4 linked regions of the Homo sapiens genome follow. The protein of the gene in region 2 purifies or fractionates together with the protein of the main gene of each other region. This does not show direct contact. Each region holds a gene or a part of one and is shown on either strand. Other genes may lie near its edges. The genes, in order: MKLN1, LILRB4, CD47 and ATP2B4.

Region 1 (5,280 bases), on a different chromosome or scaffold from region 2:
TTCCTAGATTTTCTGTGGCATTCTGTAGGACATTGTATTGCTTGGAAAAAAAAAGATCAAAATCATTCTGGGGCAAATGCTCTATTATCCTTATTTATGACAAGAGAATAATGAAATTCATAAGAAATTAATAACATTCAGATATTGCTATAAATGTACTTGAGTCATTTTCATTTGGGGATAGTAATAATGGCTGTGGCAGCTTTAATGGAGAAACCTGTGTTGGCCTCTTTTTCTGGCATTAGGATCTCTTGTCATAGAACTATTGGTAAAGTACAGGTTTGATAGCAGAGTTCCTGAATTCAGCATATCATCAGAATTTCCATTTACCTTTTGTCTTTTCTTTTTATTGTATTTTTTAACCTTTTTGTTTCTATTCCTACCTCCCATGAGTAACATTGATTTCTGCTGAAGTTAGAATTTGTGTTAAGAATTGACTTTAAACTTCTGAAATAGTTGAATATTAGAAGTGGCTTCAGTTGCCATGAAATGATTGCTTTTCTTTTTCTTTTTTTTTCCTTAAATAAAAATAATGCAGCCTTATATATGTCTCTTCCCCTCAAGAATGTGAATTTAGGCTGGGCATAGTGACTCACGCCTGTAATCCCAGACCTTTGGGAGGCTGACACGGGAAGATTGCTTGAGCCCAGGAATTTCAGACCAGCCTGGGCAACACAGGAAGACTCCATCTCTACTTAAAATATTTTTGTTTTTTAGCCAGGTGTGGTGGTATGTGCCTGTAGTCCCAGCTACTTGGGAGGCTGAGGTGGGAGGATCACTTGAACCCAGGAGTTTGGGGTGCAGTGAGCTATGATTGCGACACTGCACTCCAGCCTGGGCAACAGAGCAAGACCCTGTCTCAAAAAAAAAAAAAAAAAAAGAATGTGAATTTAGCTCCAATTCCAAATGACTAACTCTTAGGCCAGTCATAGCCAATGAAATCATCTGACGGTAGCTTCTGTAGCCCTTAACCTAAGGAGTCATTAGAGGTTATAGTAAATTAGTTTCTCTAGTGGTGCAGAGAGAAATGCCATCGGGGAAATTATCACTGTCTTTTTGGCTAAAGTTTTATATTGTGAACTGGATCCCACTTAACAGCTTAAAAACACAAAAATGAAAGGGTAGTCCTAGTTTATCTTCTTAATTAGAATCATTATTTGGAAATAAGATTTGCAATGTGCTGTCTATCCCCAAACACTGCTGAGCTTGCTGGAAAACAGAATTTAACATGAATGTTGTCTGAAAGCTGTAGGATCAATGGCAAAAAAGGGGAAATGTTTGGTAGGGAATTGGACCAGTTCTAAGGTATCACTTTTAATTATAAAATAATGTCTTCCTTTTTATCTGCTTTTCAGACAGCCTCAGTGAACTATTAAACATTTGTGTGCAAAGTCCTATTTTGCTTATCTAAGGCATTTTGACTTGGAAGTATTAAACTTCAGGAACGAGCTAGAGAAGACAATGAGGGTATGTTAGAGAAGGAAAAATAGGAGCTTTTTGCTTATGGATTTTAGAGGTCCACAAATCGAAAGGAAAAATAAATTTCTTCATTTCTAACCCTAAAATAATTTTGTTAATGAGATGCTGGGAAGAAGACTACCAAAAGGCCTCAAAGCTCATGCTTCTAGAATATTCAGTAATTCTGAATAGTCTTTGGGAAGTAGCATTTCTTGGGAAGTAGCATTTCCCTTCTTCCAAATAACTGTTTGAGATCTTAAAACAGAAAATCCAGTGTTAATGGGCTCTAGATCTTAAACTAGGTGAGCAGCTTCTTACATACAACCAGTTCCTTGTTAAGGATCCAGCAGGAAAACCAGCCATAAAACATTTCAACATGCAGTTTGGGGGCTCCCTTGCTTATTCACTGAGTTTAAGCTCTTGCTGCAACATAGCTCTGTACCATCTGGGATGCTAGCAGTCACAGCAGTTAGCTCAGATATCTGAGCTGTCTGCCACACAAAGCCTGAGGAGATCATCATTCTTCAGTTTCATTCATTACTTAATGAATGCCAAATTAATTGGCAGGAAGAAGAAACACTGTGTGATATACTGAACAAGCCTGTGTGCATGAATAAGGAGCCACTCAAAAAGCCAATTTTGAGCTTTATTTCTCCGTTGTTAACAAATCTCAAGAAAGCCTTTGTTACAGTTTAGCTCATGTCATTTGGTTGGTTTTATTTTCTAGCCCTTTAACATAGGAGGAAAATTGTCATTTCATGTATAACTTGTAACACAGAATTGAACTGATACTAGTTTCCTTGCCTTAAATTAATTATATGTCATCCCAAGGGTCTCTGTTAATTCTGCTTTGCCAAGCAATAATGAGATCTGGGTTTGGCATTAGAAGTATTTCATAATTTTGGTTTTTTATTTAGGTTTCCTCCACATCTGTAAAGTGATTGATTAAATTAGAGGAGGCGTGTAGAATAAATCCCAATCCCATTGCAACTGGCAGAGCTTTATAAATCTTTATAAATTCAGTTACAACAAAGGAGAGGATCCTACACCATTAGAGCCATGCCATCAGGTGTTTGCAAGTGACAGCTGTAGTGTGTTGCCTCAAATAATACCAAGTTATAAATAATACCAAGTAATTATCAACTCACTCCCAAATTTAATAAGATATCAAAGTCCAAAAGGTTACTTAGGAGTAGTCTTCCGTGGGGGAAGATAAATTTATTAAAGAGTCATGTACTGATCTTTTTCTTGGGATTTTTTTTCCTTTCCCAGAAAAAAAAATTATTTTGGTGACTGATCAATTGTAAACAATTTTCTTCCTTACTTACAAATCATCCGTTCAGAAAAATAAAAGTGGACTTCCTTTCCTAAGCATTACAATTAGCCTGGGCAAGAGGTGTTATGATTGTCTTATTCTTTAAGCCGGCTTACTTTTTGGATTTGTGTGAAATGTCTTTTGAAAAGAAAGTAGATAGTATAGTATTAATTAACTACTTTGTATAGTCTTCTGCATAATTTAGAGTTGAAAATAATGTAACATTTTCCTGTGAACAGATTCCTTTATGCGTACATACTTTATAAATATACATACATACACATACACATACATTTTTAAAATGCTCTTTTTAAAGAGATTCTTATCTTGCTCCCACTCCAAAAGCTATGTACAGTTGAGTTATTAGCCTCAGAGGAAGAGTACAGGAAAGCGAAGATGAGGACCTCCTTTTCTTGTGTTGGTCTTGGGAACAAACAGTATTCCGTCTTTCAAATATGGCATATTTCTAAACAGTTTGGGAAAGATGTTAGAATTTTTTAAAAGTCAGCTCTTTTATAAATTGGAAGTACTCAGTAGTCAGAAATTAAGATCCCCTCTGATAGAGATAGATTCTCAAAACCAAAATTGGACTGAAAATTAGATTGAGAAGAAAGATACAACTTCCTCCATAGCCAATAAAATCTGTCTTTCCAAGTCTGCTTATTAATGCTGTGAATCGCTCCTTCTGTTTGTGAAAACATCTCCTGGACTGGAAATGTGGTGCTGTAACCAGCTGAGCCGAAAGTTGGAGAATGTTAAATATCTTATATGGGACTTACGATAAAATGTATTGATGTTAGTGATTGTCAAAATAGGTTTATCATTTAAAAAACTAGGAAATTACTAAGTATAAAGAAGAAAAACCAGTATTAATTAAGTGATGAGACCTGTTCATTTTGTTTTCCCTGACTTATTTCCATTACCAAACATAGTAAAGGCCAGAAAAGATTAAAAAAAAAATTAACACAGCCATTCCATTGTTTTTTACCACATGGAGAAAGGACCAGGCTGGAAGCATATGTCCCCCCACCCTTATTTATATTCCTTTGAGCATTGCCGTTTTCTAGACAGACAATCCGAAAATAATTGTGTTGATAGGTCTGTTTAAGCCTGAACTCTGGGTGTAAAATGTTATCCAGAAGCTATAGGGAGCTGCCTTGCTCAGGTCATTGGAAATTTCAACCCTAAGACTCATTGGAATTTCTAAGTCCGTTATGCACCATTATGGGCATATGGAGCATATTCATACCATGAGGAGGAGTCTTTGTTTATGATGGACTTTTTAATATGGCCATAATTAAACTCACACTCAAAAAGGATGAGCTATTGTCAAAAGCCAAAAGAAAAACAGACAAAATGAACATGAAGCAAGGAGTCCATAAAACAAGAGTTCTTTACCACGTTTAAGCAAATGTCTCTCAAAAAAAATTGTATTTCTGTGCACATTAGCTGAGATTCACACATTTTGCACCTCAGTAGTATTTCAGATGAGACTCAATGTGTGGAGAAAACCGCTAACTTGTTTGGTTCTACTCTTACCCCCTCTTCTGTGGCAATGTGGGGTCAGGGCCGTATCCTAAAGTATCCACATGGTCTTAAATGGAAATCATGGGACTCTGGAAAGCTGGCATGAGCTGGTTGGAGCTTTTAAACAGAAGTGCTTTATGGGTATCAGATCTCTTCTGACATCAATTGTTTCAAATCATTGTTGGGCTCTGTCGTGTTCTGCAATCTTCCCCATTCCCCTCATGATCTCTGGCTTATCTTTTATCCAATCTGTATGGACTTTTTAGGATTTTTTTTTTCTTATAGTACAAATAATTTTCAGATCCCAGCTTTGGTAAATGTGTTAATTCTACTTTGTGAATAAATAAATGAGTGATCTGCTAAAAATGGCAATTGTAGAATTATGTTGTATGTAATGTACATATGGAGAAAGAATGTATTTTGTTCATTTTCTTAATAAAATGTTATATATGGATGCTACAAGATATCTCTTGTATTTGCTCAAACTACTTTTGAAGTGAACTTTTAAAATGTTTTTGTACTTTACAGTTGTGTTTTTTCCCCCAGAAAGGTGAGTTTTATTTAGGCTTCCAAAAGGAAAGTGATACGCTTTCGAAGGGCCTTTGGGTGTTTTCCTTTGAGACGGTGCTCAGATGAACAAGTACCGGCCATGCTCACAAAGTTTCTGCGGGGAGGCTTCCACTTATTTAAAGACCACTGGTAAATTATTTCATGAAATGTTCTTCTATCTACTGTTAATGACCACCCTTATTTTATTTGCTTTGTCCACTTGGACTTATGTTCCTCTTTAAAGGGGATATGCTTGTACAGGCTGGAACTAGAAGGAAAGACTGAACTGAAATGGAAAATTCACTGTAGAAAAGATAGTAAAGGGAGAGAACCTAGAAGTGTTGCAGTTTGGGAAAATTCTGGATCCCTGTCCCCATTAAAGGGGAAAGACACTTTATGGGCCAAATCTTGAAAAAACTAAGCTGAGAAAT
Region 2 (7,782 bases):
TTGGCTGGTGCCCTGAGCCCACCCTCCATCAGCCCACGGGTCCCCCAATTTCCTACTTACCCAATGTCCTGTGTTTTCCCTGACGCCAGTGTTGGAGGAGGAGGAAGAGGAGGAGGGAGAGAAGCAGGATGGAGACCACCAAGACCCCGATCAGTACCTCCCAGTGCCTTCTCAGACCTTGGGCGTGATGACATCAGGAATGGGGATGATGTCATTGATGTGCACACCTACTGTGTGTGCACCTACTGTGTGTGCTGGGTCTTTCTTTCATTACCTCCAACCCTCACAGCAGTTGTGCAACCTGAGATTGCCACCCTCTCTCCACCCATTTCACAGATGCACAAACTGAGGCTCAGAGAGGGGAATCGCCTGCCCCAGACCCCTCCAGCCAGGAAGCGGCAGAGCTGGGAAGGAAACCCGGGAGTCTGAGCTGCAGCCCTTGTTCCTGCACCAGAGCCAAGCCCCAGAGTTGCAGGGAAAGAGCCTGACTGTCTTGAACCACCGCCCTGCTCCCCTCCCCTGCCCCAGGTCACCGTCTCTGCTGCAGGTGGGACCGGACAGGCCCCTGCGGAATCGGGTCTGGGAGGTTCCCTGGGAGGCCTCCTCTCCCAGGAGGGCACAGCTGGGAGTCAGAGCTGAAAGGAACTTTCCCACCCGCAGGCCTCTCTCCTTTACACTTGGAGAAACTGAGGCCCATGCAGGGGAGGGGCCTGTCCACATCACCACCTCCAGAGGAGCCTTAACCTAGGACAGAACCCACCCTTGGCTCCCCTAGACCCTGCCCACCTCCCACTCAGAGCCCCTCACTCACCACTGTGGGGGACTGACCCTGTAGGCATGAGGGGCTGGTCCTCAGGGCCTGCTGGGTTAGAACAGGGATGTGAGGGCTGGGGCTGCCCTGCTCCCCACATCAGCTCGGCTTCTCCCCGCAACATCTCCTTCAGCCTTGACCCCCTCACCCCTCACCAGCCCAGCCTCAGGGCCTTGGGAGCCTGTGGTGCCTCCCAAGTCGCTGCCCGACTCCCACACCCGTGGAAGCAAGCCCAGCTGAGAATTGGAACGAGGACTTAGATCCACTGAGCATGTCTTGAGACAGGCCTCGGGCTTTGGAAACTCTCTGGACAGAGGCCTCTGAGACTCACCAGCTGTTGAGACGGACCTTGTGGGTGAGGGCCTGGGACCCTCCAAGGATCCTGGGTAGAAGGACAAGAGGAGGGTGAGAGTCTGGGGTTGCCCTTGGGTCTCCACATCAAATTGAACCTCTCCCTATATCTGCCCTGCAGCTTCCCAAGGACCATTTCTCTGTCCACCTGGCACCTTCTGGACCCTAGGTGAGGGAGAAGAGCATGGGCATGCCTGGGAGGGCCCCTGTTGTCCTCCTCCCCTCTGAGGGCTGAGTCCCCCACTGGCTGAGCCCCTCTCCCTCCATCCCTGCCCAGAGCTCTCCTGGCAGCAGGGCATGAACGGAGCCACTGAGCTCAGAGAGGACAGGGTCAGGAGCCTCACCTGAGACTATGAGCTCCAGGGGGTCACTGGGGTGTGACAGCAGGTAGTGGGAGAAGCCGTGTGAGCTGAAGCACCTGTAGGTCCCCCCGTGCACTGAGGTCACAGGACTCATGGGGAATTCAGCCTGGTGCTGCTGAGCTCCGTGCTCTGATCTCAGATGCAGTAGGGGATGGGCTGCCCGCTCCTTGATCAGAAGAAAAGTGTCCATTGGGCTCCGTGACTGACACAGCAGGGTCACGCTCTTTCCTGAGGTCACAAGAGGACTCGGCAGGGCTGAAAGGGTGGGTTTACTGTAGGCTCCTAGGAGAGAAGGAGGCACCGTGTTAAATGGGGCTCCCACCTCCCACATCATCCCCAGGGCTGGGCTGTGAGAGGGAGATGCCCCTGAGAGCTGACCCCCTTCCTGAGGGCAGAGCCTGGGGCTGGGACCCCTGAGTGTCCTCTCACCTGTCATCACCAGCTCCAGGGGGTCACTGGGCTGTGACCAGCCTACAGGGCTGCGATAGTAACAGCGGTATCTCCCTGCATAGTCCTCTGTCATGGATGGGATGGAGAATCTGGCCTTGTTCTTGGGCTCCAGTGGGTTCTGTCTGTCCCAGGGTGCTGGGCTTTCCTCTTTATCCAGACGGTACTCCCGAGCCTCCAGGGTCCCCTGACACCAGATGGTCACAGAGTTCCCCCAGCTGATCACAGAGCCTGGCTCAGCCCAGAGGGTGGGTTTGGGGAGGGGCCCTGGAAGAAAATCAGAGGCTGGATCCCAAGACCTTCCTCAGCCCTCAGATCCCAGCTCTCAGCCCCAGGACCCCCCCGTCATCCTCATCAGTCACCCAGAACTGCTGTCTCCTCCCCCAGCTGCCCATGGGTGGCCCCTTGTCCCAGTGAGGAGGAGGGACCTGGGACAGCTGGGGACAGACTCACCTGCCTGCATGTGGGTCCTGGGGCCCAGACTCAGCCCTGGAAGAGAGTTCCCTGTGAGGGATTTGCCCCGGAAGCCTGAGCAGGTCCTCTCTTTACCCTGAGATTTTTTTTTTTTTTTTTTTTTGAGACGGAGTCTCGCTGTCACCCAGGCTGGAGTGCGGTGGTGCGATCTTGGCTCACTGCAAGCTCCGCCTCCCGGGTTCACGCCATTCTCCTGCCTCAGCCTCCCGAGTGGCTGGGACCACAGGCGCCTGCAACCACCCCCGGCTAATTTTTTGTATTTTTAGTAGAGACAGGGTTTCACCGTGTTAGCCAGGATGGTCTCGATCTCCTGACCTCGTGATCCGCCCGCCTCGGCCTCCCAAAGTGCTGGGATTACAGGCGTGAGCCACCGCGCCCGGCTACCCTGAGATTTTTGAGTCTCCTAAAGAACCAGGGCCTGGCTGTGAGGCAAATTTCCTCCAAGACTCGGGTCTCCCCTCCCCCTCTTTAAATCTCACCGAGGCAGAGCAGAGCCGTGAAGGTGGGGATCATGGCGTCTCCTCCCAGGGGCCCCAGCTGTGCAGATGGATGAGTCCTCAGTGCCGGCAGGACAAAGAGACACACAGGGTGTGGCCGCTTGGAGGCTGGGTCCTTCTCGTCATGGGGTTGTTCCATCAGCAGCCCACAGGAAGGGAAACTGCCCTCATTTGAACCCCAGCCTGGCTTTCATTTCCCCAGAGCTAGGGCTGAGGCAGGCACCAGGTTCTCTGCAGACATTTCAGACAGAAATGGGGTCTCTCTGATCCCAGCCTGCTGTCTGCCTGGTCTTAATTCCTCTCTTGACCAAACATCAACCCGTATGTATCGTGTGTTTGCAAAGCGCCTGACACTGGGGGTACATCATTGAACAAGTGAAAAAAAAAAAAAACCAAAAACCTGCATTTTCAGGGTACAGATGAACCATAAAGCTTCCTTTTGCTGCCATAACAAATCACCACAAGCTTAGTGGCTTCACATAATGTAGGTTTATTGACTTACCGTCCCGGAGGTCACAAGTCCAAAATGGGTCTCCCTGGGCTAAAATGAAGCTGCTATCAGAGCCGTGTCCTCCTGGAGGCTCCAAGGAGAATCTGTTCCCTCGCCTGTTCAAGCCTCTGCAGGCTCCCGCATTCCTGCCTCTCCATTCCCTCCAACCTCAAAGCCACCAGTCCCGTTATCTGCCCCCTGCTTCCATGCACTCACCTCCTTCTCTCACTCTGACCCTCCTGTCTTCCTCTTTCACTTACTCAGCCCCTTGTGATTACATCAGGCCCACCTGGGTAATCTCCCCAACCCAAGATCCTTGACTTAATCACATCTGCAAAGTCCCTTTTGCCACATAAGCTTCCCCAACTCACAGGGTCTGGGCCTCAGGAGGTGGACATCTCTGGGAGGTCACTATTCTGCCTCCCACAGGCCTTCAGGGACTCCTTTAACCAAATCTCACATAGAGCACTTCTCTGCGATGACGGAGAGTGGCTGGGCACGCCAGTCGAATGCTTGGTGGGCCAGTACGCAGCCAGGTCATGGTCGGCTACTCATGTCCCATGGGACCTGCCCACTTGAGGCCAAACATTCCATCTCCACCAGAGCCCGGTAGACATCTAAAAACTGTGTCGCAAAACAAAACTCATTCTCTGCAGCGCTAGCACGATGTAGCTCCAAAATATATATATATATTTTTTCTTTTCTGAGATGCAGTCTCACTCTGTCGCCCAGGCTAGAGTGCTGTGGTGTGATCTCAGCTCACTGCAACCTCCGCCTCCTGGGTTCAGGAGACTCTCCTGCTTTAGCCTCCTGTGTAGCTGGGATTACAGGCACCCGCCACCACTCACAGCTAATTTTTGTATTTTTAATAGAGATGGGGTTTCACCATGTTGGCCAGGCCGGTCTCGAACTCCTGACCTCTGGTGATCCGCCCATCTCAGCCTCTCAAAGTTGCTGGGGTTACAGGCATGAGCCACCACGCCCAGCCAAGCATAGATTTTAAATGTTTTCACAGATGTTAGTATGCGGAGTGATGGACATGTTAACTGTCTTGATTCCATCATTCCACAGTGTATACATTTATAACACATTGTACCCCATAAATATATATAGTTGGTGAATTAAATATTTAGTAAAATTATTTTGAAAAGGAAAAAAGCCATAAATACATAACAAGCAAGCAAAAAGGCCAGATAGCTTCAACCCTTAGATCACTGCCTGTGTAAAACACTTCAGGTGGCCAGCTCTCAATAATCATCCATTTGAGTGGGCACGTCCTGCAATGATCTGGAATTGTAGTCTGTCCTAGATGGTGACTAACCATTTTCTGTCTCTGTTCTTCTTAAAAGGATGAGAGGACCTTCTAACTTTAGAACTGAAACATAGGGTGGGAGGGGAAAGAGGAAGCAGAAAAAACAAACCCCAAATTAATTGTATCTAACGGTCAGGAAGGCAAAGAAGGAGAGGCTTGCAGGAGGCTGAAAGTCAAAGTGCCGGGAAACGCATGAACACCACTGCCCTCAGGTTTCCAAGCACCTGCTTTTAGTACCTCATTCCGTATCCTTTTGGGTCACTCTCAGAATCACGGGACAGTATCTCATTTCGAGGATTTCCATGTGTCTCTCCACATTTGTGTGTAAGGACCTTATTGGAAGCTATTTCAGCCAAAGCTTGATGCGTCTGACAGTGGCTGGGGAAAAAGAAACTCCCAGAAATGGGGGCTAGAAAGCCATACACATATTGGCGAGTATCTCCTGTTTTGGCGGGAAGTTCTGGATGATGGTCTGCACATTATCAGAGATCCTGGTGTGGACCTGTCCATATTACCTGCTGTAGTGGTGTCCGCAATGCATGCTGATTTCAGGAATTCCTCTCCTTCTCTCTTTCATAAGGGAACCCTATTCCCTTAAACTTGGTTCCCAAATCAGTTACCTGCGCTCATATCCTTGTCTTAAGTCCTGCTTTCAGAGTAACCTGTGCTAGGCAAGGACTGGGAAATGCCAGGAGGTTTTTCGATGTCATCACCCCTTTTCTAACCGCTCAACATGCCTTGCCTTTACCAGTCCTGGACTTCTTGTATTTTGCTTCTTTTTTTTTTTTTTTTTTGTGACAGGGTGACACTCTGTCATCCAGGCTGGAGTGCAGTGGTGCAATCTTGGCTTACTGCAACCTCGGCCTCCTGGGTTCAAACAATTCTCCTAACTCAGCCTCCCGAGTAGCTGAGAGCTGAGATTACAGGCAGCTGCCACCACACCCGGCTAACTTTTGTATTTTTAGTAGAGATGGGGTTTCACCATGTTGGCCAGGCTGGTTTCGAACTCCTGACCTCAGGTGATCTGCCCGCCTTGGCCTCCCAAAGTGCTGGGATTACAGGCGTGAGCCACCGCGCCCGGCCTCATTTTGCTTTTGTATTCGTGCACTCACCACTCAGTAAATCTTATCCATCCTCACTTAAGAAACATTTAAACATGTCAACCTGTGGCCATCCCAGGACACAAGAGATAAAGGCGAGCAAAGCAGATATACTGGATTCACAGTAACCCAGACTTCATTTCAAATTACCTCCCCTCCTAGAAAATCTAGCATCCTAGCAAAAATTAAGTTGATAAAATCACTACGCAAAAAGTTTAGAGATAGGACCAGTCCCGGGAAGGAAAGATTTAACGCAATAGGACAGGATAAAAGAAATACCCACTGGGTCCTGCACTCACCACCTGGGTGCAATAGTTCCATGTAGCAAACCTGAGCATGTATCCTCGTATCTAAAATAAAAGTTGAAGTTCAAAAAATAAAGAAGAAAAACAGAAAGCAATTGAGATGGAGGGTGGTGAAGAAGCTGAAGGAGAGGTCAGATGGTGATGATGAATTGGTATTATCTGAATGAAGGGATGCCTGGAGGTGGAGAGAGAAGCATTGCAGGAGGTCCTGGTCATAGGTATTCAAACGGGTGGATCCTAAAGCCTTACAAGAAGTAAAAAGACCACAAGAGTCGTTCATTCATTTCCAAGTATATTTCACTCTAGAGTCAAGCTTTTGTGAGATACTGAAAACAGGACCTAGTTGGAATGAATCATAAATTTCCATCTTAACTTGGGGTCACGGGTGTTCTGTGATTCATAAGAACCCATGTTTCATTGTTTCGTTTTCTTTTTTTTTATTATTATACTTCAAGTTCTGGGATACATGTGCAGAACGTGCAGGTTTGTTACATAGGTATACACGTGCCATGGTATTTTGCTGCACCCATCAACCTGTTGTCTATATTAGGTATTTCTTCTAATGCTATCCCTCCCCCAGCCCCCCAGCCCGTGACAGGTGCCGGTGTGTGATTTTCCCCTCTTCGTGTCCATGTGTTCTCATTGCTCAACTCCCACCTATGAGTGAGGACACGTGATGTTTGGTTTTCTGTTCTCGTGTTAGTTTGCAGAGAATGATGGTTTTCAGCTTCATCTGTGTCCCTGCAAAGGACATGAACTCATCCTTTTTTGTGGCTGCATAGTATTCCATGGTGTATATGTGCCACATTTTCTTTATCCAGTCTATCATTGATGGGCATTTGGGTTGGCGTATTTGATTTTATCCAGGGTTCTACAGATGCCAAGGAAGGGGTGCAGCTCTACTTAAGTTTACCTCTTGGTCTCTCCTTGGGACCTCCTCTGACTGTGCCATGCCTGAAACACCAACCCCTCTGTCACCACCAGGATCAATTGCAACTGCTCCATGCACATGAGACTACTGCATAGTCTGGGAGCAGTTGGCCTGGGGACAGTGGGATTGGAAGACCATGGAGGGTAGGAGAGCTCGCAGTCCACACAGCAGCCAGAAGGGAGGATATTTCAACATTCTCAAATCAATAGATATGATATCTCATGTCAACAGAAGGAAGAACAAAAAACATATAATCATGGGCAGGCGCGGTGGTTCATGCCTGCAATCCCAGCACTTTGGGAGATTGAGATGGGTGGATCACTTGAGGTCAGGAGATCGAGATCAGCCTGGCCAACATGATGAAACCCCATCTCTCTCAAAAATGCAAAATATTAACTGGGTGTGGTGGTGTGCACCGGTAGTCCAGCTACTCGGGAGGCTGAGACAGGAGAATCTCTTGAACCCAGGAGGTGGAAGTTGCAGTGAGCCAAGATCGCGCCACTGCACTCCTGCCTGGGTGAAGGAGAGACCCTCTGTCTAAAAAAAAAAAAAAAAATTATATGATCATCACAATAGATGTTAAAAAAACATTTGACAAAATTCAACATCCCTTCATCATTAAAACTATCAACAAATTAGGCCTAGAAGAAACACACCTCAACAAAAAATCCCCAGATAATTCCATTAACAAGTATGCAAAGC
Region 3 (7,752 bases), on a different chromosome or scaffold from region 2:
GAGATTGTGATGGTTAATTTTAGGTATTAACTTGACTGGATTAAGAGATGGGTGCTAAATCATTATTTCTGAGTGTGTCTATGAGGGTATTTCCAGAGGATATTGGCATGTGAGTTCGTGGACTGAGTTGGGGAGATCCTCCTTCAATGTGGGTGGGCACCATCTAACCGGCTGGGGGTCTGGATAGAGTGAAAAGGCAGAGGAAAGGCTCTCTTGCTCTCTCTCCTGGAGCTGAGACACCCTTCTCGTCCTGTCCTTGGCCATCAGAACTCTAGGTTCTCCAGCCTTTGAACTCTGAGACTTGCACCAGTGGCCTCCTGGCTTCTTAGGTCTTCAGCCTTAGAGTGAGAGGTGCACCAAGGGCTTCCCTGGTTCTGAGGCCCTCCAGTTTGGACAACCATGCTACTGGCATCCCTGTGTCTCCAGGCTTACAGATGGTCTATCGAGGAACGTCTCAGCCTCTTTAATCACATGAGCCAATCCACCTATCTCTCTATCCTATTAGTTCTGTCTCTCTAGAGAACCCTAATACAGACATGCAAATATACTCAGGACAAATTTCATTTTCTCCAAGCTAATGTGATAGAAGAGGAAACTATTATGTAGAAACAAATATCTACTGACACATTTTGTTAGCAGTATGAACAAAGCATCATGGGAGAGATAACTAGACCTATGAAATGATGGAGAATCATGGCAAAGAGGAAAAGTAGGGTTGAGAAAGGCTTCTTGGAGGAAGTGATATTTGATCTTGGCCTTGAAGAATGAGCTAGAATTCTCTGAGTTGAGGAGCAAAGAAGAAAACATGAGGGAGCATTATGAGAAGCAGAGCAAACAGCGTAATTGAAGCACAAAAGCCTGAAAGTAGCATAGTCCAGGCATGGAATAATCCAGTGTTGCTAGTGTTGCCTGACCATGCAACAGATGTTAGTTTGCATTCCATTGGCCAGAAGTATTAACAAGTGAAGAATCTTAATTACAAAAAAAAGCACATATTCAGAGACACTAAGAAGAAAGAGATAATACTCTGAAACTACAACCAGCTGATGACTGATAAGTCAAAATTAGGAATTTAATGATGCTAAGAACCTCTAATATGTCAGGTCAGCTCCAAGGTTAGTTCAATAGTTTCATTCACATATGTTGGCCAGGCACGGTGGCTCACGCCTGTAATCCCAGCACTTTGGGAGGCCAAGGCGGGTGGATCATGAGGTCAGGAGATCGAGACCATCCTGGCTAACACGGTGAAACCCCATCTCTACTAAAAATACAAAAAATTAGCCGTGCGTAGTGGCGGGCACCTGTAGTCCCAGCTACTCGGGAGGCTGAGGCAGGAGAATGGCGTGAACCTGGGAGGCGGAGCTTGCAGTGAGCCGAGATCATGCCACTGCACTCCAGCCTGGGCGACAGAGCGAGACTCTGCCTCAAAACAAACAAACAAACAAAAAATAAAAGATAAAACATATGTTTACACAACACCCTTTTATGCTAGGTGCTTTGTCAGACACTGATTGAAGATATGGTTCCTGACCCTGAGAGGTTTATTTACTCATTCAGTCATTCATTTATTCACTCATTCTATTTATTCTTTTAACAACGATTTGTTGAGTACATACTATGTGTCAGGCAAAGGGGCTAGCAGTAAAGAAGACTCATATGGTCCCTCCCCTCATTGAGCTTACAGTATAGGAAACAGTTATTACTGAACACGAAGACAGCTATATAAACATAATTTCAATAAAAGATGGTAACTGATATGCACCAAAGTAAGACTAAAACACAGAGAAGTGCACTTAACTTATACTGGCATTATCATGGGCCTTGATTTACTGTGGGATCCTTTGCTGTTATGTTCCCTTACGTTGAAAGATGCATCTGGCCCTACACAAAGCACAGACTATGAGTAGGTAGGCACATACAGTTCTAAGCCAACCCCTTGGGGCACCAGGAGACAGCACTGTCTCATGTCGTTGCATGACACACCACCATGGGGCAAAACATTTGCTGAATGAAGTTACAATAAGGATACAATTGTATCTACATAAACATTTAAAGATACTATCATATCAATACCTACTATGTGGCAGGATCTTGATGTTGTGTGGGGAGGAAGATAAAAGTAGATGTATCGTTGAGACAGAAATGAGGGCAAGGGAAATTTTTTATGCATTGAGAGAGGAAGTTTGTGAATTTTTTCGCTGGCCATGGAGTCAGGGAGACTTCAGTCCAACCACCGTCCCTCCCTGAGCTTGTGACCAAGCCTCACTTTCCTTATCTATAAAGGTGACAAGAGTGATTTTTTTAAGTTTATTTATCTGTAAAGGGGAAACTGTAGCAACTTTGCTATTATAGGGTAAAAAGAAAAAAGGATGAAAACCAGAACAAGGGAGAGAGACAAGAGAGAGAGCAGTGTCACTTATAACTGTGGGCAAAGTGCTCACCATTCCTCTTTCCCTTTGTTTCCTCATCTCAAAAAGGGAGATCATAACATTTATCCTTTCTGAGGTTGTTATGAAGATTAACTTAGGTGATATAGCTAATGTGTACTTCCTGTGTTCAAAACATTCTAATATGTATTATCCCCTCCCTCTCTACCCAAGAAACTCCTTACATACAGATAAGATGAGCTCAACATCCAAATTAAAATGCTTTGAAAAGTTAAAAGGCAAACCTTTAAAATGATTAAATACTGAAAAGAGCTTAAGGTTATCTCAGAGAGAGGATAATCAAACCTAGGCAGGCTGCTTTGGACTGTCTCTCCTGGGATATGCCTGCTTTTGCCCCACCACCAAAACATACCCCAGCTAGATTCCCAAGAGCAGCAGTGGTCACCCAGGTGGCCTCTCATTCCATTTTCTGCACAAAAAGACGTTAAGCATATAGCTCAGTAGCTCCCAGTGTAAAACAGAACATCACCCGATCTCCACCTCTGAAGGTTGGGGACAGTCCTTTCTAGTCACTCTTCAGCTTTAGGGGGGTTGGTTGGTATCAGGGACAGCTGACAGCCTTATTTAGCCAACCAGCTGCTCTGTGATACACAATGTCCCTAATGCTCAAAGTCTGGTGGATGATTCTTTTGTATCCACATAAGCAGCAGTTGGAGGAGAATCGATGAGTCCCTTTGGTTGCCTCGGGGTGTCAAGGCTGCCATTCAAATCATTACCACCATAATTATTAACCATTGTTTTAGTGAGATGTCTGCCAGGCAATTGTTTTTATTTTTCAATCATTAAAAAAGCAATCAAATTTCACTAGAGCAATGCCTGCCTCACGCCGCATCAACACATTTATTAAACCCCTTCTGTTTGCCGAGCTCAATGGAAAGTCTTGGAGGAGGGAATACTTAAAATGCTCTCGGATTTAAAAGAATTGATAATGCTGTGGGGAAGAGGTTCACACAAAAAAGCAATTACAGGAAGAAGCTCGATAGTATACAATACACTGGTACAGAGTGTCATAGACAGTGCCACTTTCATACGCTGGATTTTATTTCTGTGGCAATGGGATGCTTGGGAGGAGCCGCACTGTGTAGAGGATTTGGAGAAGTGGGGTATTGTGGTGGGAAATTGCTTTCTTTCCCAGGAGGTAGGAGGAAAACAATCAAGGAGGTGGACAGGATGTGCACTCCATTAGAGCAGCCACCAGAGCCTGACTTTTTGATAAGAGAGTACATCAGTTAGGATAACGGTTAAAAGTATCTTTAAAAGACTTTTGCTTCAGGATGAATGATGTGGCCTGTGTGATTCAGCGATAAATTCAAAAGCCTTGTCCCTATTGTGGCTTGCGGCCACATTTCGAACCCATTTTTCAAGCATGTTAAACCCAAGCGCAGCGCAGAGGGCTGCACATGGGGCAGTCACAAACCAAGCTCAATAACCTTGCTGGTGGGGATGTGTTGGATACGCTGCTAATGCCTGTTTGCGACAATGCTCGCTAGTCCCGGTGGTGGCGGTGTTCACAGGTAACAATGTTTACCACCGTGAATGGAACTTGTTTGATTAACCCTGATCAGAGGATGAAAACACTAAAGAACCAAGTGAGAAAGAGGGAAGAGAACCGCATAGGGAAGAGCAGAGCGAGTAGACGAGCCGAACGCAGAGCCCGCGAGGGGCGAGTGGAAGCTCCCTGCGGGCAGGTACCCGACCACCGCCCTGCCCTGGGCGTGGCGGCCTCGGGCTCAGGGACCGCTTCGGCGCTAGACGGCCGCGTCCGGAGGAAACGGGCGCTGGTGAAAGCCTAGGTGTCCTGGTCCACGCGCGCAGCCGGACGTCGGGTCCAGGGAGAGACGCGGGCTGGGGCGGGACGGGACCCGGCCCCTGAAGCGCGAGGGTGGGAGTGAAAGCAAAGAGGAGAAAAGTAGAGAGAGAGGACAGTGGGGCCCAGCGCCGCGCGAAAGGCAGGAACCGACCCGCGGACAGGAACGGGTGCAATGAGGTCCCCGGCGAGCGTGGGAACACAGGGTTCAGCCTCCTGCGGCGGGCGAGCACGCGGACCCCAGGGGCGGGCGGGTGCGACAGGACGTGACCTGGAAGCGCGGCGCGTGCCACCGCCCTGGAGCAGGCATCCGGCCTCCGTGGAGCGGGCAGGCGGGCCCCGGGTCTGGAGCCTGCGACTGGGGAGGGCGCCGCGTCAACAGCAGCGGTTGCGGGGCGGGGCCGAGTGCGCGTGCGCGGCTCTCGCGGGCGGGGAGCAGGCGGGGGAGCGGGCGGGAAGCAGTGGGAGCGCGCGTGCGCGCGGCCGTGCAGCCTGGGCAGTGGGTCCTGCCTGTGACGCGCGGCGGCGGTCGGTCCTGCCTGTAACGGCGGCGGCGGCTGCTGCTCCGGACACCTGCGGCGGCGGCGGCGACCCCGCGGCGGGCGCGGAGATGTGGCCCCTGGTAGCGGCGCTGTTGCTGGGCTCGGCGTGCTGCGGTGAGTGGCTCCTCGCTCCCAGCCCTGCGGCTGCTGTCGCTTCGCCCCCGCGGGCGTGTGGGCTGCGCCCCAGCCAGCCCGGCGGCGCCCTGAAGAGGGTGGCCGGGGCGCAGAACACTCGGGCCCTGAGCGCCCGAAGTGCAGACGTGGGAGGGCCCCACGGGGAATCGGGCGCCCCCCTTCTTCCTCCCTTCCTTTCCCTGGTCGTCTTCTTCCCCCTGGGTGAGAGCGGGGCTCATCTCCTCCACCCGGTTCTCCATCTCCAAATGCACACACACAGGAAGACTCCAAACCGCGCACCTCGCGCAAAAATTAACTAGCAAGAAAGGGCGCGATCAGAGGCAAGGGGCTGCAGCTGCTAGGGATCCCCTTCTTTCGCACCCCTCTCCCTTCTCAGTGCTTAGACGCATTTGGGGTTGAGGGAGGGAGAGTGGGAGGGCCCGGGCCTCTTGCGATGGAAGTGCGCATTTTGGCGAAGTCGGTGAGAAGGGGTTTCTGCCGTTTGCCTCCCACATGAACATAGGAGCGAAGAGGACGTAAAGGACACAATTAAGTTTCATTTTCAACTCAGCATTCAATCAGAAGAATCTTCCGGCCGTGTAATTTTTGCTGTCGTTTTTAATCCTAAAAATAAGCTTGCTGGAAACTCTTCCTTTCTCGTGACCCTCACGCCCCATCAGCCACTTGCATACATTCTAAATTGTACGTTGAAGTTTTTCCCACTTTATTTGGGGGAACCGTTTTAAAAGTAATCTGGTTTTCGCCTGAAATAGGAAGACAGTAACCTCCAGTCAAAACATGTGCAGCAGAATGGGATTTGGTGTTTTTCGACGCCAAAGAACCTCCACCCCCCCACCCCCACCCCGAGCTTTTGGAATCCATTTCGCTTTTGTAAAACGTGTGCTTCGTCTGTAAAAACTGAGCAAGGAATAGAAACATTCGTAGCTCTACAGTGAGTGCCTGTCACACTTCACATCCATAGAGCCTTTTGTGAACTTTTATAAGATTCAGAATTCAGCTTGAGCACCAGTGACAGCAATTGTTACATTTATTCTAGAATGCTAAATTAATTCGATTTTAAACTGATTATTAGCCTCGGTGTGCCGTTCCTAAAGGCTTGTGACTTTAGGTATTTCCAAGATGCCCTTAAGTCTCTGCTTACCACTTTCCTCCCTCCCCGAGCATCCTGGATGTTGGGACTGTGAATCCAGGTCTCCGTTATCTAAATGGTTGATGTTAGTGTTTCCTGTCATCACGTTTAGTATGCTTGTTGCCTTTACTATCATTATAGCTAAAATAATACTGCTTTCAGAGATGTGTTGTATAATCGCATAATAATTTCAGAACGCCTTCATATTGAACCAGATATGAAGTGATACAGTATCATTTATTCAAACTGCCTAAAAAGTAAAAAGTATAAACCATATACTATTTTTAAAACAGGTAGGTTAGATTTAAATCACGTAGTTTAGAACTGTTGGAATGGTACTTTGAGTGATAGGATTTATGTTAGGCCTTCTTTAGTAATAGTTAATATCATGTAATTAGCACTCGTTTACACACAATTTTAATGTGTTCGAATCCCTAGAGTCATCGAATTCAGAATTTATAGTATTTTATTTTACTTAGTTAATATTAACCTAAAAAAAAAGCAAAATACAGGCATTATGCAGTTGAGTTGTGTTAAGTGTGGACTGTAAAACAGGATAGTATTTGTTATAAAATATGTTTTTGTATGTGTTTAATATATAGCTTCAAAAGGACATGTATGAAGAAAGATGTCTCAGCACATAGGTAGTTATAAACCAAGGGTTTGAGAGACTGACTTTAGAATCTAGAATGAGTAAGAAAGTGATGGATCTGTACATTCATTTGTATTGAAGTTTGATTTTGCTTTCAGTTTCGTTAATTAAGCCCCGGGAATCAGGGACCTTTCCTGGCACCCTCTACAGTGTTAGTGGCCTTTGTGGTAAAAGAAGTTATCTCAGATACTCATTTCATGCAATTACAGGCAAACTGGAAGGCACCTTAATGGTATGCAAGATGTGAAATGAATTACTATGTTGCATTCCACTCTGCCCCCACTCATGTACAATTATACTTTGTTTAAAAGTGCATAGTTTCAGTGGTATTTATTAGCTAGCAAATAAAACTTTAAATAAATAATGATGGTGTTGTGAACTGTCTTTTCAGTGGTTGAATGATTCCTCTTTGTTCAAAATGAGTTGTTTTTTTTTTTAAATCAGGGTACATATGATTAAATAAAATTTTTTTCCATCGTCTAAGTCTAGTAGTAATTTGGCTTGTTTAAATAAAAATGTTTTCTCTTAAAGAATATATTATTTTTAATTACAAGTTGCCATTTTAAGGAAGTAAATGCCTATTTAAAAGTACGTATTTATGGGGCCGCCCCAGCAGTCTAGAGGCAGTGTTTTTTAAAGCATTACACTAAATGCCTACCATTAGGACACTTGCTCATGCTGTCATCTGTGTTTTGGCAGATGTTTTATCTTTGTCACTGAGTTGTTCATGGAGATTTGAAAGGCCAAGTTCTAAAGATGAGAGATAGATGACTTTCCCCCCAAATTGATACATATTCTAAATCCAAAATAATCACGCATATTCGCAAAACTAGATTTGCATTTCATAGTATGAATTCAGCTATAGCTAGTATATAGGCATTGCTTTTAATATAGTAATGTTCTTTTTGTGGCATAATTTTCAATCACTTTCCCTGTCTTAGGTTTCTGCCTACCTTTTTATACAAGATAAACATTTCTATTTTCATATCTTATCTCTCAGTCTGATTTTAATAATATCGTCTTGGGTTATCATAAAGTTA
Region 4 (7,771 bases), on a different chromosome or scaffold from region 2:
CTGGGAGTCCCAGGGGTAAGACGGGCTGTGCTCCTTTGACTTGACCTTGAATCTAGAGACTTGGTGGTAAATGGAAGGGAGAAGGGTCTGAGGCTCGGCACAACCTGGGAGGCAGGAAGCCTCCGTTCGCCGCTCGGTTCGCATTCTCCACGGAGTTCTCAGACTACAGCAGAGCCCGGGAGGGTGGAGCCCAGCGGCGGAGAGGCTGGCGGGGCGGGGTCGCAGAGGCCGCGGAGAGCACAGGGGCCGCAGGGTTGCGCAGTCAATCCTGCCCCGAGCCCCGGGGGAAGGGCTGAGACTGCGGGAGCCGATTACCCCTTTGGCCGCGACCCCGGGCTCAGGCGACCCGGTGCGCGCTAAATAACGACCTCACGGAGAAGCCGTCCCCGAGCCCACCAACATCGACCCCTAATCAGATTACTGAAAATAGGAAGGCCGGCTGCAGGAATAGCTGCACTCTGAGCCTCCACGATGGGAGGCCGCGGCGAAAGCGGCGTGATTTTCGAGGTTGCACCTCAGCAAGATGGTGGCAGGGAGGATGGGACTCCCGAGGAGGAGTATAGAAATGGATCCCCTCCCTCCAGAACACGGGCATTAATTCTGTCTTGGGGGCCCTGCCCACTGGGGAAGGCCTCATTCCCTTCTCGAGCAGAACACAGGTAGGGAAGAGCTGTCTAGCCGAGGGGTGCAGTCAGATCAATCAACACCTCAAAGTGAAAATCAAATCGTTCCTGTTGCATCCCCAGCCCCGAGATGAGCTCTCCTCTAAGTGTTTTACTTCCTTCTCCCGCAGTGTCTCAGCTGTAGCCTTTACCACTCCTCCAAGCCCTGGGGCTGAAGGCAGGTGTTTCCTCTCCCCCAGCCTGATTCCCACAGATTTGTCTGCTTCAGGGTTTAGGGCCCACCTTCCAGAACACGCCTTACCAAGCTGCCACCATCCTTCCTGCCCCTCCCAGAGTCTGCTCCCCAAGCCACCACCCTCAGCCAAGGAGGGTAACTCAGCACATGGGCTAGGAGGCCTCTTCCACTCCCCTTCTTCCTAAACACTCCTGGCCCAGCCCCTCGTCACTCCCAGGCTGCTTTCCTGGGCCTGGCCCAGCCTGGAATGAGCCTGGTCTCCTTCCTCCAGGTAGAGGGCTCAGAGTGGAGGGGGCGTAGTAGGGCCTCCAATGGGAAGCGCGTGGAGAAGGGGCAGCTTGGGGAGGGGCTTAAGGAGCAGGGCCAGGGTCTCTAGACTCCCTGCCAGACTCCTCACACAGAGGAGGGGGGCGCTGCAGAATGGGATTTTGTTTCCCTTCCCTCCCCCACTCCTTTCCCCTCTCCACAGGGGCCTCAGTTGAGTACCGGCCTATTTCTTCATCTGACATTCCCCCTGCCCGGCCAGCAGGCGCCGGCATCACGTCTGCAAGTTATTGTTAAGTCCGGCAGGAATGCCCAGGAGGGACGTGCCTCTGGCAGCAGAGTGCCCACTCCCCTCCCAAGATGCGGCTGGCCACTCCTGCACCCTCCACACCCAGTTGGAGAAGAGCGGCGGGTACCCTCAGGGAGGTGGAGGAGTGTAAGAGGCCAGACTCGACTCGGGGAAGGATGCCAGCAGCCCCCTCTACCAAGAGCGAGCCAAGTATGTAAAAGAAAGAGAGAAGGGAGAGCAGGAAGGACAATCCCAGTCTTAATTCCTAGCTCTTCAGCAAGCCAAGGCAGTGGCCCGAGACGCTCAGGGATCCTTCCACAGATGCCTGTGGCCCACCCCATCTGCCAAACACTCACCAGCCCCACAGTGTCCAGCCTCGACATCGGAAACTTTTCAATTCACCCTTCTCCTTCCTCCCCTTTGGGACCAGAGATGTGTGGGGCGGTGCCCTCGGAGACACTCATACAGTTGGTTCTGGACGCTCACACACACTCAAACAACAGCGGTACGAGGTAACTCCCAGCTTTTTCCACAGCTAATTATACATGTGAAAGTCTGAGGATGTTTTGCAAGCAGCACAGAGAAACTGCTGAGGTTTCTCTGCAAAGCTAAAGAAATTTAATTCGTGCACTCTCCTTCCCCACTCCTGCCAACTTCTCCCAGCCCACCTCCACCCCATGGCCCCAAAGTGCCCCTCTCCTAGTTCCCGCTGCAGCCCCTCTTTCTGCTGAAGATTTCTTTGGTTCCTTTTTTTTTTTTTTTTCCATCTCTCTTTTGGGCTTTCGAGAAAGGGAACAGACACGGAAAATATTTTTGCAACAGTTTTCCATCCTGCGTCTCATTCCCAAGCCAAGGGGGGAAGGGGAGGGCAGGAACGGAATGGGTTGAGGGAGGGGAGATAAATATTTTTTCCAAGAGCTCAATTTTGGTGTCAAAAAGAGAACCCTCCATTACCCTACCCCATAGCCCAGGAATGACAAGAACTAGGAAAAGAGAGATAAATCACTTGTTCGACTATATGGTTTCTCAGAACTGATAATAGGTAAAACAGTATTTGACAAATCTGTGCACACACACATATTTTAAAAAAAATCCTCCAAACCCAGTCGCATGAAATATTCTAGAAAGAGGAAAATCGGGGAGTTTTAGAAGCCATTGAGAGAAAAGAAAGAAACAAAGTTTGCAAATCACAAGTCAATTCATTCTCTGCAAGCCTACCTCTCTTTCTAGCAAAGATCCAGGTTTCTTCAGGCGGGACTCTCCCTCCGGGTTTCCATGGATGAGGGTAGGGTGGGGTGACCACCCACCAGTCTCCCCAGTGTGGCAACCAAGCTAGAGACGCTGGCTTTGCTCTCTTGCCTTTCTGGCTAAGGCCGGGGAGTGGGCTGGGTCTCCTCCCCCTGCCCCTCCAATGGGAAGGACCTCTCAGGTTCCTGAAAGAAAAAGGGTGCAGGAGAGCTGGGCGGGTGTCTCTGATCTTGCTCTCTTCGGAGGGATGGTGCCCCACGAAGTTCGTGCCCCCCCTCCCAGCCCCCAGCTTTGGACGATCTCAACAGCAGAGCTTTCTTAAGAAAATGCTTGTCATGGCAACAGCTCTAGCTAACTCGGGCCAGACTCTTGCTCACCAGCTCTCCCCAAGCAGTGCGGGAAGAGAGAGGGGAGGAGCAGGAGCTGGAACAGAGGTGGGACTTGGCGCGAGGCCAAACCATTACTCTACTGTTAAGGTGGCCCGATTCTTGCGGTTACTTCCTGGTTCGTCTTAAGGGGGAATGGGAAAAGAAAGGGAAGCAATCCTCTCCCCTGTCGGCTTTCTTCCCCGCCCTTGCTCTCACTTGTTGAATAGAAAGCTGAGTAGGGGTGGAGGAGGGGTGAGGGTGGAGGTGGGGAGTGGATGTGGGTGGCGGTATTCAACGGTTGCTGGGCGGAGGGGAAAAAAAAGGAAGCTTGGGCAGGCGGCTGGCTTCCTGCAGCTCCTACGGGCCTCTCAACCCCTTACTCACTTAGATCCAGGACCCAGAAACCCGAGGTGTCTGTGGACACTTGTATGTCCCCTCCTACCTTCCTGCTCCTGTCTGAATAGGGGGTTCCTTGGAGAAGGAGAATAAATTGTTTTGTAAACACACACACACACACACACACACACACACACACACACACACACACACCCGTCCTCCCCTACACCTTATATACAGGTCACATTTTGTTCCCTCTTGTCCCTGTACCCACCAGAGGTATACTGACAGTGCATGAAAATAGCTGCTTACTTTTGAGTCCTGCTATGCGTGGGCTATGACACCAAAAGCTTTGTCTATATGGTATCGTTTCTAGTCCTCATTTAATCTTGAAAGGTACTTATTATTAACCTCATTTCCTAGTTGAGGGAATTGAAGATTGAGTGTCTGGCCCAAGGTTATACATCCGGCTAATGACAGAGCCAACGATTCAAGACCAAGTCAGACAGACTCCAAAGCCCGAGTACTTTCCTGTACTTTGTATCATACTCCGGCACATATTTCCGTTTTAATTTGCACACACTCAGACATCCATGCACACTTATACACAGCCTGTAAACAGTTAATCACACCCCCATACCCACACACCCACTAGCATTGTGCAACAGTGCCACCCATAGATTTTGCATAGAACTTTATGGCTTTCAAGCACAAACATGCACCATCAGCTGGTTCACACAACATATCTTCATTGACTGACAGATTCCCACACCTACCTCAGCAAACACACTCATGTTTATATGCTTATGGAAGGCACATTGACATATGTCTCACAGGTTATAGCTATGAGCTATGCTGTGAAGAAGGTGACTGGCCACTACTTCCCAACCTTTTAAACAGAGGGTTGGGAAAAGGCCTCTTTGATCCTATCATTCTAACCCAACAGCTCACACCACCCCCTGTCCTTCTTTGCTGTCATCTCTGCCCCCAAGAAGCAGAGCCACATGTGCATGGAGAAACAGGGTTGTGAAACGGGGTCCAGTTTCCCCCGTGTCCAACTAGCACCCTTCCCAATGTTCTCTCATTTGGGTCCTCTTTTTCCTCTTCATTTTCTTACCCTGCTATTTCTTTTTTCTTTATGGTTTTTTTTTTTTTTTTTGAGACGGAGTCTTGCTCTGTTGCCCAGGCTGGAGTGCAGTGGCGTGATCTCGGCTCACTGCAAGCTCCGCCTCCGGGGTTCACGCCATTCTCCTGCCTCAGCCTCCCGAGTAGCTGGGACTACAGGCCCCTGCCACCACGCCCGGCTAATTTTGTTTTTGTATTTTTAGTAGAGACGGGGTTTCACCATGTTAGCCAGAATGGTCTCGATCTCCTGACCTCATGATCTGCCCGCCTCGGCCTCCCAAAGTGCTGGGATTACAGGCGTGAGCCCCCGCACCCGGCCAGTAATGTTTTTAGACTGGTTGGGCTGGGCTCAGAACTCAGAGTTCATCAATGTGAGGCTGGAGATTGCCTGCTGTCATCTGAAAACAAAATCCAAAATAAGCCCTGGCTAGGCACAGTGGCTCATCCGTGTAATTCCAGTACTTTGGGAGGCTGAGGAGGGAGGATCACTTGGGGCCAGATTTCAAGACCAGCCTGGGCAACATAGCAAGACCCACCCCATCTCTACAAAAAAATTAAAAACAAGAGAAAAAAAATAAGCCCCTGCCTGTGCTTGTGCCTCTCCCTGCCAGCAGCCGAAGAAAGTTGCAGGGGTAAGGGGAGATTTTAGGGTCACCCTCTATGGGAACTATGGATTGTTTGGTCTTTTTTGTCTAGTGATTGACTGTCTGACACTCAAGGCACTTACAGGACACTAAAGGTGACCTTTGTTCTCATTTCAGCCTCTTGCAACTCCTCTAGTCACTCCCACCTTCCCAGGGCATTTCAAGAACAGTTAGTACCTTGTTAGATTCCTTCCTTCCTCCCTCCCTCTTCCCTCCCTCTTCCATTCCCTCCCTCTTCCCTTCCCTCCCTCTTCCCTTCCCTCCTTTTTCCCTCCCCTTCCCTCCTTTTCCCTCCCCTTCCCTTCCCTTCCCTTCCTTTCTCCCTTTCTTTCCCCTTCCTTCCTTCCATCTCCCTTCCTTCCTTCCCTCCCTCTACCTTCCTTCCTTCCTCCCTCCCTCTTTCTTTCTTTCTTTCTTTCTTTCTTTCTTTCTTTCTTTCTTTCTTTCTTTCTTTCTTTCTTTCCTTCCTTCCTTCCTTCCTTCCTTCTTTCTTTCTTTCTTTCTCTCTTTCTTTCTCTTTCTTTCTTTTTCTCTTCCTTTTTTCCGTCCTTCCTTCCTCTCTTCCTTCCTCCCTCCCTTCCCTCCTCCCTTTCCTTCCTTCCTTCCTTCTTCCTTCCTTCTTTTTTTTCATTATGGGTCTCCCTGTGTTGCCCAAGTTGCTTTTAAACTCCTGACCTCAAGTGATCCTCTCGCCTCAGCCTTCCTAGAAACTGGGACTACGGGCACACCCTACAATGCACAGCACCCTTGTTAGATTTTGGTAGACCCTAGCAAAATATCAGCTTCAGGAGCCCAAATCAATTGTTGGGGAAGACATGAGAAAGAAAGGAAAAGAAATGAATCAGCTTAACAGAGCTGCAGATTTAATGGCTTGTCAGGCTCCCTGCTGGATGGCAACAACATGACATTTTAGCACCAATGAGTGTCAGTTGCATCTTTATCATAAGAAAGCCAGTCTCTGAAATGACTGTTTAAATGTATTAAAGTATATTTTAAGCTCGTCTGCAGTGGCTGTGTGTGGAGGCATTGCCTAACTGTTCAGTAAACTTGTCTTGGGGGAATGACAATTTAGGCCAGATGTATGGTCCCAATAAAGAAGAAGTCTGCTTTGGCTGCCTGTTTTGTGGGGACTGGGAAATGATACCCTTTCATAGCTGGTTATTATTGGAAAGGTAAGATCTTCCCCTCAAGCTCCCTGGATTCCAGGGAGACAGGCTCTGCCAGGGAGGTGCTGTCAAAAGAGGCTCTGATGGCTGTCCCACATCTGGCTGGCTAGGATTCAGGGGCAGGCCAGGTTTATGACTTCCAGGGTGGCTGTAGATCCTCCCCTTGACCGGCTGTGGGGTTGTGGGATGAGAAAAAAGGAATCCCCCTCCCACTCCATTCCCACCCCAGCTCTGCTGCAGACAGGAGGGAGGGATGTCGGGGGGTGGGTCAATGTGACCCCAGAGGAGCCGAGGGGACCATAGCCTGATCTCTGTCACTGAGCTGACCACTGAGGCCTGTGTTTTCTGGAAAGCTAGAAGCCTCAGTGCTTCGCTTCTTGCAGCGGCAGGTTTGAGGTCTAGAACGGGTAAAAATAAATCTATCCATAAAAATAACCACTAGATGTGGGAAAATGGAGTTGGCCCCCCTGGGGCAAGAAGGAGGACACTGCCTCTGGCATCAGAAGTTCATAGTCTGCCTGTTCTGCTCAGCTCTGAGCAGTCCTGTTTCCCTCTTCTCCCTGCTGTACTCTTGACTTTACAGGTTCCTGTTCTTTAGATCTAGCCTGGCTCTCCTCAGCCTCCTGAACTCCCCATAGCAGGTCAGTCTCTACAGGGCTTACATCACTGTGGACCCTGTCCCTACCCCATCTCTCACTTGAGGAAAATGCAGTCAGCACTGTCTCTCACTTAGGTGTTTAACAGAATGTGTTCCTCTGCCTCTTGATGACTCCACCTTGAGTTTTCCAAATCTTCCTCACCATTTCCTGTACCTCCCCCGAATGCAGACTGCATGACTCCCTGTTGTGAATATCTACCATTTTGCCTTGGCTAGAACAGCAGCCATTTTCCCCATGCCCGAACCCAGTTCTTTGGGACGTCCTTTCTTCTCACTGTTAAGATGGAAACTGGGCCAGGCATGGTGGCTCATGCCTGTAATCCCAGCACTTTGAGAGGCCGAGGTGGTTGGATCACTTGAGGTCAGGAGTTCAAGACCAGCCTGGGCAACATGGTGAAACCCCGTCTCTACCAAAAATACAAAACTTAGCTGGCACGGTGGTGCGCGCCTGTAGTCCCAGCTACTCGGGAGACTGAGGCAGGAGAATCGCTTGAAACCAGGTGATGGAGGTTGCAGTGAGCTGAGATTGCACCACTGTACTCCAGCCTGGGTGACAGAGTGAGACTCTGTATCAGTAAATAAATACATAAATAAAAATACAAAAAAAAATCACTGGGCATGCCTGTAATTCCAGGTACTCAGGAGGCTGAGGCCCGAGAATCACTTGAACCCCAGAGGCTGAGGTTGCAGTGAGCTGAGATCGTGCCACTGTACTCCAGCTTGGGTGACAGAGTGAGACTCCATCTCAAAACAAAACAAAACAAAACAAAAAACAACAATTGAAACTGACATTTTATTAGCAGTCCTAACCCCAC

The links.
Region 1: the proteins of LILRB4 (region 2) and MKLN1 purify together in Homo sapiens (affinity purification with mass spectrometry; 2 studies listed by BioGRID and IntAct, with this or other methods). This does not show direct contact.
Region 3: the proteins of LILRB4 (region 2) and CD47 purify together in Homo sapiens (co-immunoprecipitation; 3 studies listed by BioGRID and IntAct, with this or other methods). This does not show direct contact.
Region 4: the proteins of LILRB4 (region 2) and ATP2B4 purify together in Homo sapiens (co-immunoprecipitation; 3 studies listed by BioGRID and IntAct, with this or other methods). This does not show direct contact.

What each region holds. Positions count from the first base shown.
Region 1 is NC_000007.14:131,491,874-131,497,153, forward strand, and holds the end of MKLN1 (muskelin), read left to right. Parts: 3' UTR 1-4,759; downstream 4,760-5,280. UniProt on the Homo sapiens protein: Component of the CTLH E3 ubiquitin-protein ligase complex that selectively accepts ubiquitin from UBE2H and mediates ubiquitination and subsequent proteasomal degradation of the transcription factor HBP1.
Region 2 is NC_000019.10:54,658,210-54,665,991, reverse strand, and holds the start of LILRB4 (leukocyte immunoglobulin-like receptor subfamily B member 4 isoform 1 precursor), read right to left. Parts: upstream 3,008-7,782; 5' UTR 2,959-3,007; coding exon 2,925-2,958; intron 2,461-2,924; coding exon 2,425-2,460; intron 2,239-2,424; coding exon 1,954-2,238; intron 1,807-1,953; coding exon 1,507-1,806; intron 1,194-1,506; coding exon 1,143-1,193; intron 863-1,142; coding exon 812-862; coding exon of another isoform or gene 804-811; exon of another isoform or gene 785-803; intron 178-784; coding exon 61-177; intron 1-60. UniProt on the Homo sapiens protein: Inhibitory receptor involved in the down-regulation of the immune response and the development of immune tolerance. Receptor for FN1. Receptor for apolipoprotein APOE. Receptor for ALCAM/CD166.
Region 3 is NC_000003.12:108,088,021-108,095,772, reverse strand, and holds the start of CD47 (leukocyte surface antigen CD47 isoform 1 precursor), read left to right. Parts: upstream 1-4,741; 5' UTR 4,742-4,864; coding exon 4,865-4,910; intron 4,911-7,752. UniProt on the Homo sapiens protein: Adhesive protein that mediates cell-to-cell interactions. Acts as a receptor for thrombospondin THBS1 and as modulator of integrin signaling through the activation of heterotrimeric G proteins.
Region 4 is NC_000001.11:203,622,078-203,629,848, reverse strand, and holds the start of ATP2B4 (plasma membrane calcium-transporting ATPase 4), read right to left. Parts: upstream 3,018-7,771; 5' UTR 2,630-3,017; intron 1,913-2,629; exon of another isoform or gene 1,768-1,912; intron 1-1,767. UniProt on the Homo sapiens protein: Calcium/calmodulin-regulated and magnesium-dependent enzyme that catalyzes the hydrolysis of ATP coupled with the transport of calcium out of the cell. By regulating sperm cell calcium homeostasis, may play a role in sperm motility.